Regions from separate parts of the Homo sapiens genome. Here all the other regions are reported to be linked to region 3. The links are microRNA targets in miRTarBase. Many come from high-throughput screens and were not tested one by one. Region 3 holds a microRNA gene; each other region holds the end of a gene's coding sequence.
What was found. The annotated mature microRNA hsa-miR-6895-3p reads UGUCUCUCGCCCUUGGCCUUAG and lies in region 3 at 3,019-3,040, opposite strand. An mRNA with a match to its seed (bases 2 to 7 or 8) in the 3' UTR can be bound and repressed. Matches are read on the target gene's strand: a 7mer-m8 pairs with bases 2 to 8, a 7mer-A1 pairs with bases 2 to 7 and ends in A, and an 8mer does both.

Region 1 (3,000 bases), not on the chromosome of region 3:
CTGGGGAGACCCACCACACCCTCTACTCCGCGCCGCCAGCCCGCGGCCCCCAAACGCGCCAGGCACCCTCTGGGCCTCCAGTGCCCCGGCCCGAAGCCCCTCCGGAAAACGCGTCCCTGCCAGCCGGCTCTCCGGAAGACCATCCCCCGACCAGAGGCGCTTAGGGAGTGGGGGGCTCCCGGTTATGAACAGCTTGATCGGGGAGAGAAAATGGCCAAAGTGAAGAAAAACTCGAGTAAGAAGAGCGGGGCAGCCTGGCCGCGGGGAGCTCAAGAAGGAGAAGGAAGAAGCCATTGAATGTCACGCTGCAAACTCCCTGCTGGGGACCTTCGTTCTGTTTTATCGCTACTTTGCGACTTGGTGTTTCAGAACAGTTTCCGAGAAAACATTTTGCTGATTGTTAATAACAAGAATTTATTTTTTCTTTCCTAAAAATCAAAATCTTCGCTCAAATTCCCAAGGCGGACAGTAATCAAAAATGGAAAAAAAAAATATGTTGGTGCTGACTTCGCTTGTATTTCCTCTTGTGTGGGAAATCTTTTAGAAATATTTTTATTCTGTAAATATGTACTTTATTTTCTAAATTAACATTTTTTTCGAATTGCGAAATTATCTCATTTACCAATTTTCTTTTTGTCTCTCCCTCTTTTCTCCCTCTTTTAAACTGGGGCTGTTAAGTTGGTGGTCAGAAGACAAAGAGAGTGAAAATAATTTTCATTTCAATAATTGCCTTCTGGTCAATTTAACTGTGCCTTATTTTGAAAGAGACTGTCTAAATGAGATTCCTGTCCCAAATGTGTTCCCAGGCCTGATCCCAGCCTTTAATTATTCCTGAGTTTTTTTCTTCAGAATAAGACGCCGCACTGAGTAATCACAAAGAAGTCAGAGAGCATCCTTGAACCTTTTCAGAAGCAGCGCCACTGATATTCAAATAACCTGCGAGGGCCATTTGACGGCGCGGGGACCTAGGCATTTCCAATTCACTATTTGCATAGATCAGCCGTCTTTGAAAAGGAAAGGAGCAGTTGTCTTCCATAACATTAAAAAGCCTAGTTATCAAATCAAGTGCTTAGTTTGGGGGCTTTTTAAAACGTTTACATTTTATCTCAGGTTGCCCTTTACCGTTTGACATGCAAATTTGGTGCAGTTAATTTAGACAATTAAAAAGATCTTCAAGGGAGCTTTGTCACAGAGAATATTTGGAGTTTTCCCCGCGGACCAGCTGAGATAAAGTTGGCCAGAACAAATGATGTCTAGGAGATTAATTAGATATTTGATAAGACATGAATCCCTAATAAGGGAATACAAGGCACAGGGGGCTGCTGTGTGCTCTAAGTCAAAATTAATAACATTTAACAAGATTTTCATTTAGGCATGAAATGTCTTTTCCGGGGTATTGACTCTAGCGATTTATTCCCTTGAGTTGCCTTCCAACATACAGGGCCTTGGGAGCTAAAAGACTTCTTTTTTTTTAAGCGTTTTCCTTTCACAGTTGTTTTTAAATCACTTTTTAAAAACAAACAAACCCACCAGAGTTTTCTCTGACCCCTCCCAGAGGTTTAGGCACCTCCCCAATTAAAGCTGCCAAGGACCTTTGCATTTTTTAGGCGCTCCAGAGTTTTAAAATGTCACCTTTTGAGAGCCTTCACATTAAGTAATACAACTACACGTCCTTACAACCCAATTTAATTTATGTTGTTGATATACAAATAAATAATTTTGACTTCTCAAAAACGTATATGTAGTATGGCTTTTATAACCCACATAAACTTTACATTACCTACAACTAACATTAAGGGAATTTTTTCCCAACCGAAAAAAAAATCGACCCACGAAAAGGTTATTGAGGGGGAAACAGGATTTTTAAAAAAGGAAATGTATTGTTCAGAGTCCTTTAATAATACCAAAATGAAAATATGATGTCAAGATTTTCTTGATACAGATAAACGCATTTAATTTCTTTAGATGACCTTAACTTACGTGTTTGTGAGTGAAATGATAACTCAACATTTTAAATATCTTTTACATATATACTGACTTTCACAAAGTGCATCAGAAAATTAAAAAAAACTCCCTGAATTTCAGGGATTCACCCAAAAAAACTCTATTCGAATGAACATTTACAAGAAAATAAAAGAGAACACAATCTTTTGAACCCTATTTATACAGATGTTATGAAATACAGAGAAACTGTCGCTAGACTTCCAGTTTAATTTCTCACCTTAAGCCTTTTGATGCTTCCTTTTTTAGGAAAAAAGTCTCATTGTAAGTAGATATCAGGCAGGACTTGGAGCATTTTATATATAATATAATCCAAACAAAGGGTGTTTTTATCGGTCCCGTTTGTTTTCAAATGTTCTGACAGTCCTTTGCTGGGTGGTGGCTTGTTTTTGAGAAAAGGAAAGAGACGGGTGTTGGAGGGAGGTGGAGAGTGGGCAAAGAGGGAGCCTTTCTATGTATTGCTCTTCGCTCGAGAAGTTTGGGCGAGTGGTATGTGTGTGCGCGCGCGAGTGTGCGTGCTTGTGGTTGTAGGTCTCCGGTGTATGTGTACGTCTGGGAGTACAGTTTTTAAAGTGTTTGTGTCGGAGGATGGTTCGCTTTTGTTTCCGGACCACGCGTTCGATTCTTATCCGGGCGCGGAAGGCAGAGGGGAGCTCCTCGCACAGCGGGCGAACCGCAGCCCGGGAGCCCTGAGCGGCTCCACCTCGCGCCCAGCCCGGGCCCTGGGGGCGTCACTGAAGCCCCTGCCCTCCCGCCTCCCGCTCGCTCGCCCTCCGAACCTCTCGTTCGTTCTCGGTGTCTCTACTCGCTTGTGTGCTCGCGCCTCTCGCCCGGCCTCTAAGAGTCGTTGGGGCCAGACGCTGCTTCCTTGCCTCCCGCGGAGGCCGCCGCCGCCGCCGCCGCCGCTGCCGCCGCCGCCGCTGCCGCCGCCCGGGCGGCACTGACGCCGGAGTCATGCAGGATGAGGTCGGGGGATTCGGAACGGGGCGTCTCCAGGTT
Region 2 (3,000 bases), not on the chromosome of region 3:
CCTGCAAGACGTGCTTTCCCCCAACTCCAGCTGCGGCAGCTCCCTGGATGGGGCAGCCAGCCCGGACAGCTACACGGAGGAGCCCGCGCCCAAGCACACGGCCCGCAGCCTCCATCCTGCCATGCTGCCTGCCGCCGATGGAGCCGGCCCTCGGTGATGGGTCTGGGCCACCAGGATCAGCCAGGAGGGCGTTCTTAGGCTGCTGGGATGGTGGGCTTCAGGGCAGGTGGGGTGAGAATTGGGCGGCTCTGAAGCAAGGCGGTGGACTTGAACTTTCCTGGATGTCTGAACTTTGGGAAGCCTTTACTGACCCTGGGGCTGGCTTTTCTGTTTCCTGTACCAGTAGGAGATCAGAAAAATGGAGCAAAGTGGTAGGTACTTTTTGTGAAGACGGCACGGTCTTCCCTCTTCCCTCAGTCCCAAATCCTTCCCAAGTAAGAGGCTGGAGTTGTCACTGCTTTTGGCCTGGAGTTTGGGATCCCTGTCTTTCCTAAGACCTGGGGTTGTCAGCTCTCATCTGAGGCATCCAGCAGTCTCTGCCTTGCCTTTAGCCCCTCCCAAGCTGGCTGGGGTGGCCTGTGTGGCCACTTCTGTCCATATTTATAGGTACCCAATAGCTGCCCATTTCGTGAGCCCCATCTTCACCCAGGCCTATGTTGATCCATCCAGCTTGCCAGATGCTGCAGAGTCACAAGCCTCGAGGTGCCTTCTTCAGGGCCTGGTTGAAGAAGATGATCAGTGGACAGTCTGCTCTAGATGAGCTGGGCCGGAGGGTCAGGAAACCCAGTCGCCCTTACTTCTTGCCCTGGGGATCAAAGTTCTGCTTTCTCCCCAATGAGACTTGCCTTCCTAAGCCTGTGGCTGTGGAGACAATGTCTGCAGCCCTGAGAAAGCCCTGTCGGGCTTTGTGTGAAGGCAGAGAAAGGGACAATGATAGTAGAGTGATATGGAGCAAGAGATATTTTGGGCATGTGGGCTTCAACTCCTCGACATCACTGTTCATGCTGGCGAGTGAATGCCAGTGTGCTGATGGGCGTACGCTGGTGCTGAGTAGATGCGCAGCCCCATCTGTGCATTCTCCTGGATGCTTAGAGGGATTTCTTTGCTGTAAGATGTCTGTTTGCTGATGGTCTGGTCTATGTTCCGAATTGAGCACAAAACCTGTCCTATGAATGCTTTGCATTTGGAATTTTTGCTTGACTTCAGTTATTGGTGGAATCTTTAGCGCTCAATAGGACCAGGATCCAGCCTCACTTCTAGGGTATGGGAAATCCAATCAGAGACCAGGCCCTGGCTAAGACCCAAACATATGCACATTCACTTAGCAGAACCTTAAACACCCCTCAGTTGTGCAGCTTTTGGTCATCAAGGGTGCGTCTGGGAGGTTGGTTTAATGCAATAGAAGTGCTCCCCTCTGAAAGTTGTACATGAAATTTTTGTAAATCACATCCTTATCCTTCATCTTTTAAAGAAATAACCACTGCAAGTCCTTTTGTAAAGTGAAGAATCCTTTTGTAGAATGAACCACTGCCCCTTCATTGATTTCCTGTGTCAATCCAGATGGTGGGATGTGGTTTTCTTAAGGTGAGGCCTGTCTGTGACCTGCATCTAAGCCCATGGGACAAATTGCACAGAAGTCCTGTATGTCTGTCATTGTACCCTTAAGTCACCCTAGCCCTCTCCCTCTAGGCTCTGCCTTCGAGGTCAGAGGAGAGATAGCCTGTGGCCCTGTCCTGCCATGCAAGAACTCATCACTGTGGCTGTCTGGAAAGCCCCCCCTTATAGTTTGGGCTTCAGCCTAGTGGCTTGTCCTCACCATGATGGGGCCCTAATTCAGCCATGTACAGACAGAGAATATGTCTGCTCCTTTCCCCTTCCTTTTAAGTAAGGTCCAATTCTCGAGCTTGGGGCAACATTGTTCACCTTTGTAGCACTCAGGCTCTCCATTCAATTTCAGGCTCCCCAGATCATGTTTTGGTGAAAATTAGGGTTGGTTCCTTTCCAACGTTTGGAAGATCCTGTGAGGAGCCCCATCTGTCTAAAGATAGAGTCATTGCTGTAGGATCTAAGGCTGTTTGCTTCACCGTGGATTCGCTTGAGTTAGGAATGAGAAGTAGCCACAGTATGGATGGGTGGATGGGTTTTATGAGATGGATCACATATTTTATTAAGAACTCAAACTTCTGGCTCCCTCTTCTTTCAGACTTGCCATGTGACTCTGGCTTGGCCTATCTCCTAGGGCTATGGTGTGGACTGAATGGGATCATGAAAGTAGACAGTTTTGAGAACGTAAAGAACTTTTTCTTTTCCCTCAATCTCAATCCTGCAGTGGGGTTTCGCAGCCTGAGTCCACGACCTAGGCAGTAGGCCGGTGTGCCTGACTGCCCAGCATTTGGGTAATTTAGATTGTAAACCGCTTTGGCCTGAGTTATTGAGATTGTCCTCATTTCTCCAGATTATCTATTTGTGTGTGTGTGTGTGTGTGTGTGAGAGACGGTGTCTTGTTCTGTCACTCAGGCTGGAGTACAGTGGTGCCATCATTGCTGTCTGCAGCCTTGAACTCTGGGCTCAAGCAATCCTCTCACCTCAGCCTCCCGAGTAGGGAGGACCACAGGTGTGAGCCACCACACCTGGCTAATTTTTACTTTTTTTTTTTTTTGGTAGAGATGGAGTCTTGCTATATTGCCCAGGCTGGTCTTGAAGTCCTGGCTTCAGGCAATTCTCCTGCCTTTGCCTCCAGAAGCACTGGGATCACAGGTGTCAGCCATTGCACCCAGCCCAGATTGTCTTAATTTCTATCTTGTTCCAAGGCCAGGGACAGTAATAAGAATGGAAAAGAGATATGGGAACACTGGCAGACTGTGTAAAATGTAATGCAACTACCCAAAACAAGCCTGGTAGGAAAGGGCAAGTCTTTAGGTCTTTGTAAGAACTAAAGAAGATCTGTAATTTTTATTTTCACCCTCTGTACCCCATGACCTTATCCTTCCTCTCCTTCCT
Region 3 (4,643 bases):
CTTTCTTCAGATCACAGGGAGCCCTGTTCAGCTCCCCAGCCAAATTCCTTTAAAATAAAAAACTGTGAGCACGGCTATGTGAAGTTTCCTCCTCCTGGGTGGAACAGTCAGGGGAAGGGAGAGGGAGAAGGGGGTAGGAAGGAAGGAAAAGAGGGGAGGAGAGTGGGGGCAGGGGTTAGTGTAGCATGGCCTGGCCAGGACCAGAACTGGGGAGAGAAGGGAGGAGAGTCCCCCAGTTTGCATATACACTGGCCTTGTCTCTGGAATGGTGATGGCCCAGCCCCAGCCACCCCCCTGCCCACCAGCCCATCCATCTATCTGCCTCAGGTGTCTGGGAATGCTGGTTAGAGGCTACCAGGGAGGGAAGACTCCAGGGGCCGGCCCCCAGGAGCTGAGGTCTGAACAATACCTTGGAGTCAGAATACAAAAGTCAAGGGACTCAGGGGTGGGCGGGTAGCAGGGATGGCCACCCCCCTACCCGCCCACCCCCCAAGAAGCAGGCTTGATGGTCAGAAAGAGGATCCTTGAGGCCGAGGGGGGTCTCTGTCAGGGTCTGTGCTAGGCTCAGCCACTGTCACAACTGTTGCTGAGGCGGCTGCTGTGGGCAGGGCAGATGCAGCCGGGGAGTCAGAGTGGAGAAAGGGGCCGAGGGGCCTGAAGTGGTCCCTTCCGCCGGTTCCAAGCCATTCTGGTTCTCCTGGGTGCTGGGGCTGCCAGTGGTGGGGATGGGTGCAGGGGGGCCCTCACCCCCAGTCTCCTCCTCCAGCTCTTCCTCCTCCTGGACCTCCTCAGCCTCTGGCCCTGAGCTCCGTACCCTCTTTGGCTCTAGCTCCTCTCGGGCTGGGTCATCGCCCTCCCCACCCCGATCCACCTTCCGCCGCCGCCGCCTCTCCAGGGCCCGGCCCCGAGCCCGACTCCCGTGACGCTCTGCCTTCTCCAGCTGTGATTACAGACAGGCAGAAAGACAGGTTGTGGGCCAGTGGTCAGGCCTGGGCTCCCTACTCGGCCTGACCTCCTGGCCCGGCCCATGACCCCTCTCCTCACCTCCAGAAGTGTGCGGATCCTCTCCAGGTCTGGGGGCTGTCCAGCCTGCAGCAGCTGCCATATGCTGTGGTTCTCATCCAGGGTCACCTCGAGCAGGTCCCCCTCCATCATGAGCTCCTCCAAGGGGGCCCGGGTTGCCTCAGGCAGTTCCAACACAGGGCCAGTCAACTGTGGCAACAGCGAGGACAGCAGCTCCAGATCTAGGAGGTTGCAGGAACAAGCGGCATTAGAGGCTGCCCTTGGTCTTATCCCCACCACTACAACAGAGCTGAGGACTACATGGGTCACTATGGTGATGTGCAGTCAACAGCCTACCCACACCACACCTAGACCTACCTCTCTTACCTGAGCCCTCCTCCGGGGCTACCTTCTCAGGACTGGTCACACTGTCTCCATTCTCCAGTAAGCCCTGGACCTGCGGAGGAGAGCAAGAATAGGTAGGGGCAACTGAAGTGAAGAACCAGGCCCTATTCCTCCTCCGCCAACCCCAAACTTGAGACCCTCCGCCTTCTGGAGGAGGAGGGAAGACACAGGCTGCCAGCAGGGAGCAGAGTCTAGGAATCTGGACAGATGCAGAATGGAGTAGGAAGGCTGGTCCAAAGAAAACTGAAAATTGGAGAACAAGGGGCAGGGCCGAGCCTAAACTGGGGTAGGGGCTAGGAGACAAGAATCTGAGGACAAGAGCTGGGCTGAGTAGCTCACCTTAGGCATATCCTTGCCACTGCCCTCTCTGAGGGGGTCAGAAGCAGGGGCTGCAGGGTAGTTAGGAGGCTCCTCAGGTCTAGGTTCAGCCTGTAGCCGTTGGCGGAGCTCAGCCAGCCGTCCCAAAAGAGCAGTCACATCTTCAGAGGCCAGAGCCTGCCTGGCGCGGCCTTGCCAGCTGATGGCCCTCTCTGTGAGGCACTGCAGGGCCTCGCCCTCGGGCAGCCGCACAGGCAGTCTCTGCAGGGCTACCAGCAGTGCCAGGATGGTCTCCAGGCGCGGGCGCCTTGAGCGCATACACAGTGGACACAGGAATTTGGTGTCCCATTCCCACCAGGCCAGCAGTGGGGATGAGGTGGGATTGGGCCTCGGAGAGCTGAGGAGGCGAGGCACTGACACACACCGCCCATGGAACCAGTCCTGACACAGGTCACACTGCAGAGCTCCCGCCCCAGCCAGCACCTGCCCACACACACAGATAGAGGTTGTAGAGGAGGCCGTGCTCGATGATGCCAGTGGACTGGGCTTGGCCGAATTGGTGCGACGCAGCTGCAGGATACCCTCCTTCTCCTTCTGTTCCCCCTCCTTGAAGGCCACGATCTGCCATACCCAGGACAGGAGCAAAGTGGGTCAGCAGCCTACCCCTTCCCTTCTCTGGGCCCCCCCTTAACACCCCCACTCCCAAACCAGGAGAACTGAGGCTCAGGGGACAAGCGGTCTGCTCATGGCCACCCAGCTCAGACACTCTATCATCACCAAGCCCTTCTCCCCATCTGTGTCGAAGCTCCTTACCACAGAGCCTGGGTCCCTGAGGTCCTGCGCAGACAGCCCCAGCAGCTCTGTGTCAGATTTGTACAACCCCAGCTCCTTCTCCATCCACCGGCTGCGCTTGGTGCTGTCTGAGCCGGCATCTGCACATGGGCAGAGAACCTGGGGCAGGCAGACAAGAGAGGGAATGACTGGGCTTCCCTTACATCCCCCGCCTCCTTCCCTCCCTGGTGCCCCTACAAAACCCATGTTATCTCATGAGCCATCTCACAGAAGCCAGGGCAGGCGTTAAGAGACGCTGTAGGTCAAGGTCCCAGGCCTCACCTCCAGCAGCGTGTAGCAAGAATTTTTCTTGAGGAAGGTCTTGGAGGCCTTCTCCCTCCAGGAGTGCGCTGTCAGTACCTGTAGCTCTAGCTGTCTCAGCTCCTCCAGCCCCACAGGTAGGTCCCGGCCCACAGCTACTAGGCCCTCCAAGTCATCCAGGCAGGGGTAGTGGTCACCATTCTAAGGCCAAGGGCGAGAGACAGCTCAGTTCAACTTGCCAATGCTATTGATGCTTACTCTGTGCCTGGCCCTGAGCTGGAAAGATGAACTGGGCTCAGTCTTGAGGGATTAAAAAAATAGGTGTCATCCTAAGGAACAACCACTTGGCTCTCTCCCACAACACCGGCATCTACTGACTGGCTCAGCCCCAAATATCTAGTCAGCCTTCTGTTGTGGTTTGCCTCTTCTCCTCTCCTCCATGCCCCTGCCCTGCTCAGTCCCATACCACCTGCTTCCCTGGCCCACCAATCTCATCCTAACCAGTGCCCTCTCTTCCTTCAGGCCAGCCTCACACTCTTCCTCTCACCCTGCTCATCAGGCACATCTTGCCTCCTGACTACATGCCATGCCCCCTTCCTCTCTCCAGCCAACCCAACCCATCCCAGCAACCCAGCACATCCCAGTGTATATGCCATCTCTTCCCAGCTGGACTGAAGGCCTGGGGTGGGAGTGGCAGGGTCCTCACTTGGATCTCATCAACATCAGCAATCCAGGCCCGGGCCTTAGCAAGAGCCTCCTTGAGAGCCTGGATGTTGGGCAGGTGAACAGGGATGTTTTCCGCTTCACGGATTATGGCCTCAAGTGTGGCTGGTGGATGCTTCTGCCTAAAGGTAAGGAAAAAAAGAACGCTCAGTCTGATGTGGTCTGCCTGACCAGAAGCCCAGCCTGACCACCAGATATATCTGCATGGGCCCCTTGGGTGTCTGTTATTCCTGCTGTCACTTGGGCCTACTTGCTTGTATTCCACCTAAGGGTAGCTGCCAGTCCCTGCTTCCCCAAGACTGCATGCACCCAACTTCATCCCTTCTGCCACAGCTCTTGCACCTCTGTTTGTCTGCCAGTCTGCTGGCCTGCTAGCAATGCCTACATATACAACCTGTATTGTGTAATCTGTTGCTGCAGTTTGTCAACTGCCCTGTGTGGGGTCTTTCTACCAACATCTGCCCATCTGCCTGTCACTTGTGCTTCTGGGTATGCGCACATTAGCCTGTAGGGCTAGTCTTCTAGATAATCTCTATCTGTCCATTTCTGCTTCTCCATCAGCCTCTCTTTGCCTTTAAGTATACAGAGTTGTTTTTTAAAAAAACGACAAGATAGACAACAAAAGAGGGGAGAGTCAATACAGTAACACAGGAGCGTGATACCTAAGGCCACCCATGGGCATCCTCTTCTGGGTCTCCACTCAACTTTGATGTTTGGAATAGGGCAGGGAAGGGAAGCAGCAGCTGGACCTACCTGGCCTCCAGGCAGAGGTGGGCTTTCTCCTCCCAGCGTTCAGCAATGGTCAGCAGTTCCTGCAGCTCGGCCTGGGCTTTATCCACAGCAGGGCTAGGGGCTACACTGGCACCCGCGACCAACAGTCCTCGCATGACAGCCAAGGTGCCCCTTCGGGCTGAGGGGGCCAGTGTGCGTTTCACCTCATCCAGCCATCGCGCCTGTTCCACCTGCCGCTGGAGCTGCTGGGCCTCAGGCACCTCCACCCCCAGCTGCCGCCCCCTCTCCAACAGGGACTGCAGTAGCCCTGGACTGGAGGGCAGTGAGGCCAGGGCCTCACGAGCCTCAGCCTGGTAGGCCTCCACCTGTTC
Region 4 (3,000 bases), not on the chromosome of region 3:
TGGCTATTGGGAGGCTAGAATGAGATCTATATGAAAAGTTGAAGAAAAATTTTAGTACCTGTAAACATACATGCTGTTTTTTTTCTTGTGAAATGAAAGTATTCTTGTCATCTAAGTATTTCTTATTTTCAAGCATGGTTCTTGACTTAGACACATACGGTCCCTTCCAGAAGCCAGTGGTTTAGGCTTGTGGCCATGTTTCATGGGCTAGGAATGTCCAGGCAGCCGGAGTAATCTCTGTTGTTCTCTTCTAGGTATTTACCTTGCTGTGGATTGCTGACTGGATGGTCCATCACTTCTGGAGGAAAGGAAAGGACCCGGATAGTTTCTCCATCCCCTACCTAACAGCATTGGGTGATCTGCTCGGGACAGCTCTGTTAGCCTTAAGTTTTCATTTTCTTTGGCTTATTGGAGATCGAGATGGAGATGTTGGAGACTAATAAATTCTACAAACTGCTCTCAAGTTACCAAGGAAGAAAATACACGACAACCACTTATGGCTCTTTTTCAAAACTCTTAAATCAGTAGTTTGACTTTTGCCAGGGTAATCTTCAGTTGGCCCTGATTCAATTAAATGGCCTTAATTTTTTTTTAAGGAATTTGTGTCAAAACCAGAATGAAGAGTATTCGTGCTGCTTTTCATAGAATAAATGATAATTTGACATAGACATAGATATAAGTTCCAGCTCTGAAATTAATTAGGAAAGAATATAGGATGTTTACAGTGAATAATTTTAAAACCACAAACATAGCAGAAATGTACTTTATTATTAAATTTGTAATGCAGGATTAGAAGAAGCAGAGCTCTAGTTTAGCCTTTCTTGTCTCACAGATGTGCTGTATCCCAGGCATACTATAAAACGAAGAGTGCCCAACCAAGCTTTGAATCGTATTAACAATGCCCACCTCTATGCTAGCTGAGGATAAATTTACCAGTTGCTCATATTTAAACTGACCTAAATATGTTTTGCTGAGCATAAGATAAACTCACTTTTACCTCCATCTAAAATTATCCTGTTCTGATGCCAATTCAATTTCAGCTCTGCAAGTTCTTGTCAGGCTAATCTTTAAACATTGAGTGATCTTGAGAGATTGTTAATGAAAGCAGTGAGTCATTTTTTGATGATTGATTTGTTGGAAAAATGTTGATGTGTTTTAAAAAATGTAATCTTCAAAAACAGAATATAACCTGAGATGCATTTGTAGAGACAAGACGGTACGAGAATGTGTGTGTGTGTGTGTGTGAGAGAGAGAGACTTTTGATGAAGAACTAAATCTTGGATTGCTGATAGCAAAGATCATAGTGCTGTTGGAATATCAGCAATATAGAGTTATTCTTAAACACATTCTATTAACATGTTTTTGTCATTGGGTCCAAAAATTTTGCTGCTGACCAGAATTTACTATTTGTTACCTATATTCTTTTTTTTTTTTTTTTTTTTTTTTTTTGAGACAGAGTCTTGCTCTGTCGCCCAGGCTGGAATGCAGTGGTGTGATCTCGGCTCACTGCTACCTCCACCTCCTGGATTCAAGTGATTCTCCTGCCTCAGCCTCCCGAGTAGCTGGGATTACAGGAATGCGCCACAACGCCCAGCTAATTTGTTACCTACACTCTAATTAATAATTAATAATTTCTTATTTTAAAAAGTAGTACTATTTAATATAATCAAGATAGGAGATTTAAAATGAGCAAGTGATTCATTTGCTCTTTTAAAGAAGCCCGTTGACTTACGCTTTTAAAAAAGAAGTTGGTGGGTTACCTCAATTATTGTTCATGCTTAAACATATCCATTTGTACAGGCTTATTTCTACGTGGGACCCAATCATATATACTATATTTCTCAAATAATTTTTCTAAAACTCTGGCCTATATTCTAAACACTTGACCAACACCTTAGTTATTGAATAGGTAACCATTTTTAAAGTACATGTGGTTCATTTTTTAAAATTCAATCTCTCAAGACCGTTAGATATTTAATAATTTAAGCTGATAAGGGTATCAAAATGCACATTAACTTTGATCATCATGATTTAAGTTGTAACTTTGTGTTATTATATAAATATTAGGTTGTTTATAAATATATTGCAGAAAGTATTCTTGTTAAGCTCTTTTAAATGAGGGGACTGTGGTTTAGAGTTATATATTTTTGCTTATTTTTAAACTTCAATTATTCCATTCTTCTGCCTTATAATAAAACTTTTAAGGCAGAGAACTGAACTAATTATAGAATTTCTCCTTTGGAGAGTTATAATGTTACATAGTGAACATTCTTATAAAAGAAAGAATAAGTTTAAGTTGATGAATATTTAGCTGCAAAGATTTTTTACTTAAAAAAATCCATGAATATCTTTGATTTTATTATAAAGCATTTGTAAATTATTTGCATTTGAGCTGTAAGATTCATAAACATTTACATTTCCCAATGATTTCTATTTTGATTTTTAAAAAATATACAGGGCAAGCTACATTTTTAAAGCATTAATCAACAACTTTATTATATTACACATTCCAGTGCACAAACACACAATATCATTTAATACTCACAGTAGTACCTGTGAAATATATCAGATGGATATTCCTATCTCTATTTTACAGCAGAGGAAACCGAAATTCAGAGAACTTACATTTCTAAGGTTGTACAGCTGCAAAATGACCAAATTGTGAAGTCCCTAACATCCAGGTTTTCATAATGCCAGTACTCTTTCTATGACATGTTTATGACCCTCCAAATGTACCAAAACTACCTAACTAATTCACTGAGAGGAAGCCAACTGCAAAAATAGGATTTTTAAAAGTACAATAGAGTATTACTACATTTTATGGATTTCAGACAAAGAAACCTCCGTTTATTATATCCTGATGGTGAGTATTGCCAGCTCTAAATTATTCATATTTCTAAGACCAAGGAAAATATAGGTAAATGAAAATTTTGAAATAAAGAACAATGCCTTAATTTGTAAAATCTATCATTGCTACCACCCTGCCCAGGTCTGGCCATT

Region 1: the mRNA of SP9 is a reported target of hsa-miR-6895-3p. Seed matches in the 3' UTR shown: 7mer-A1 at 2,798-2,804.
Region 2: miRTarBase lists TAL1 as a target of hsa-miR-6895-3p. Seed matches in the 3' UTR shown: 7mer-m8 at 2,489-2,495.
Region 4: the mRNA of SLC41A2 is a reported target of hsa-miR-6895-3p. Seed matches in the 3' UTR shown: 7mer-A1 at 1,205-1,211 and 7mer-m8 at 1,251-1,257.

What each region holds. Positions count from the first base shown.
Region 1 is chr2:174,337,379-174,340,378 of GRCh38, reverse strand. SP9 (Sp9 transcription factor) reads right to left here. Exons shown (of 2, transcript NM_001145250.2): 2 at 1,879-3,000. The coding sequence ends at 2,839. Among named protein-coding and RNA genes, the nearest start is that of SP9, 3.9 kb to the right of the region's middle. RefSeq lists an enhancer at 212-1,844.
Region 2 is chr1:47,216,877-47,219,876 of GRCh38, reverse strand. TAL1 (TAL bHLH transcription factor 1, erythroid differentiation factor) reads left to right here. Exons shown (of 5, transcript NM_001290403.2): 5 at 1-3,000. The coding sequence ends at 157. Among named protein-coding and RNA genes, the nearest start is that of TAL1, 14 kb to the left of the region's middle.
Region 3 is chrX:53,192,393-53,197,035 of GRCh38, forward strand. It overlaps MIR6895 (microRNA 6895), which reads right to left and starts at 3,096; the gene lies at 3,019-3,096. KDM5C (lysine demethylase 5C) reads right to left here. Exons shown (of 26, transcript NM_004187.5): 19 at 4,294-4,643; 20 at 3,524-3,662; 21 at 2,839-3,018; 22 at 2,539-2,676; 23 at 1,747-2,346; 24 at 1,381-1,459; 25 at 1,045-1,244; 26 at 1-940. The coding sequence ends at 575.
Region 4 is chr12:104,802,592-104,805,591 of GRCh38, reverse strand. It overlaps SLC41A2 (solute carrier family 41 member 2), which reads left to right. Exons shown (of 11, transcript NM_001352171.3): 11 at 255-3,000. The coding sequence ends at 440. Among named protein-coding and RNA genes, the nearest start is that of SLC41A2, 150 kb to the left of the region's middle.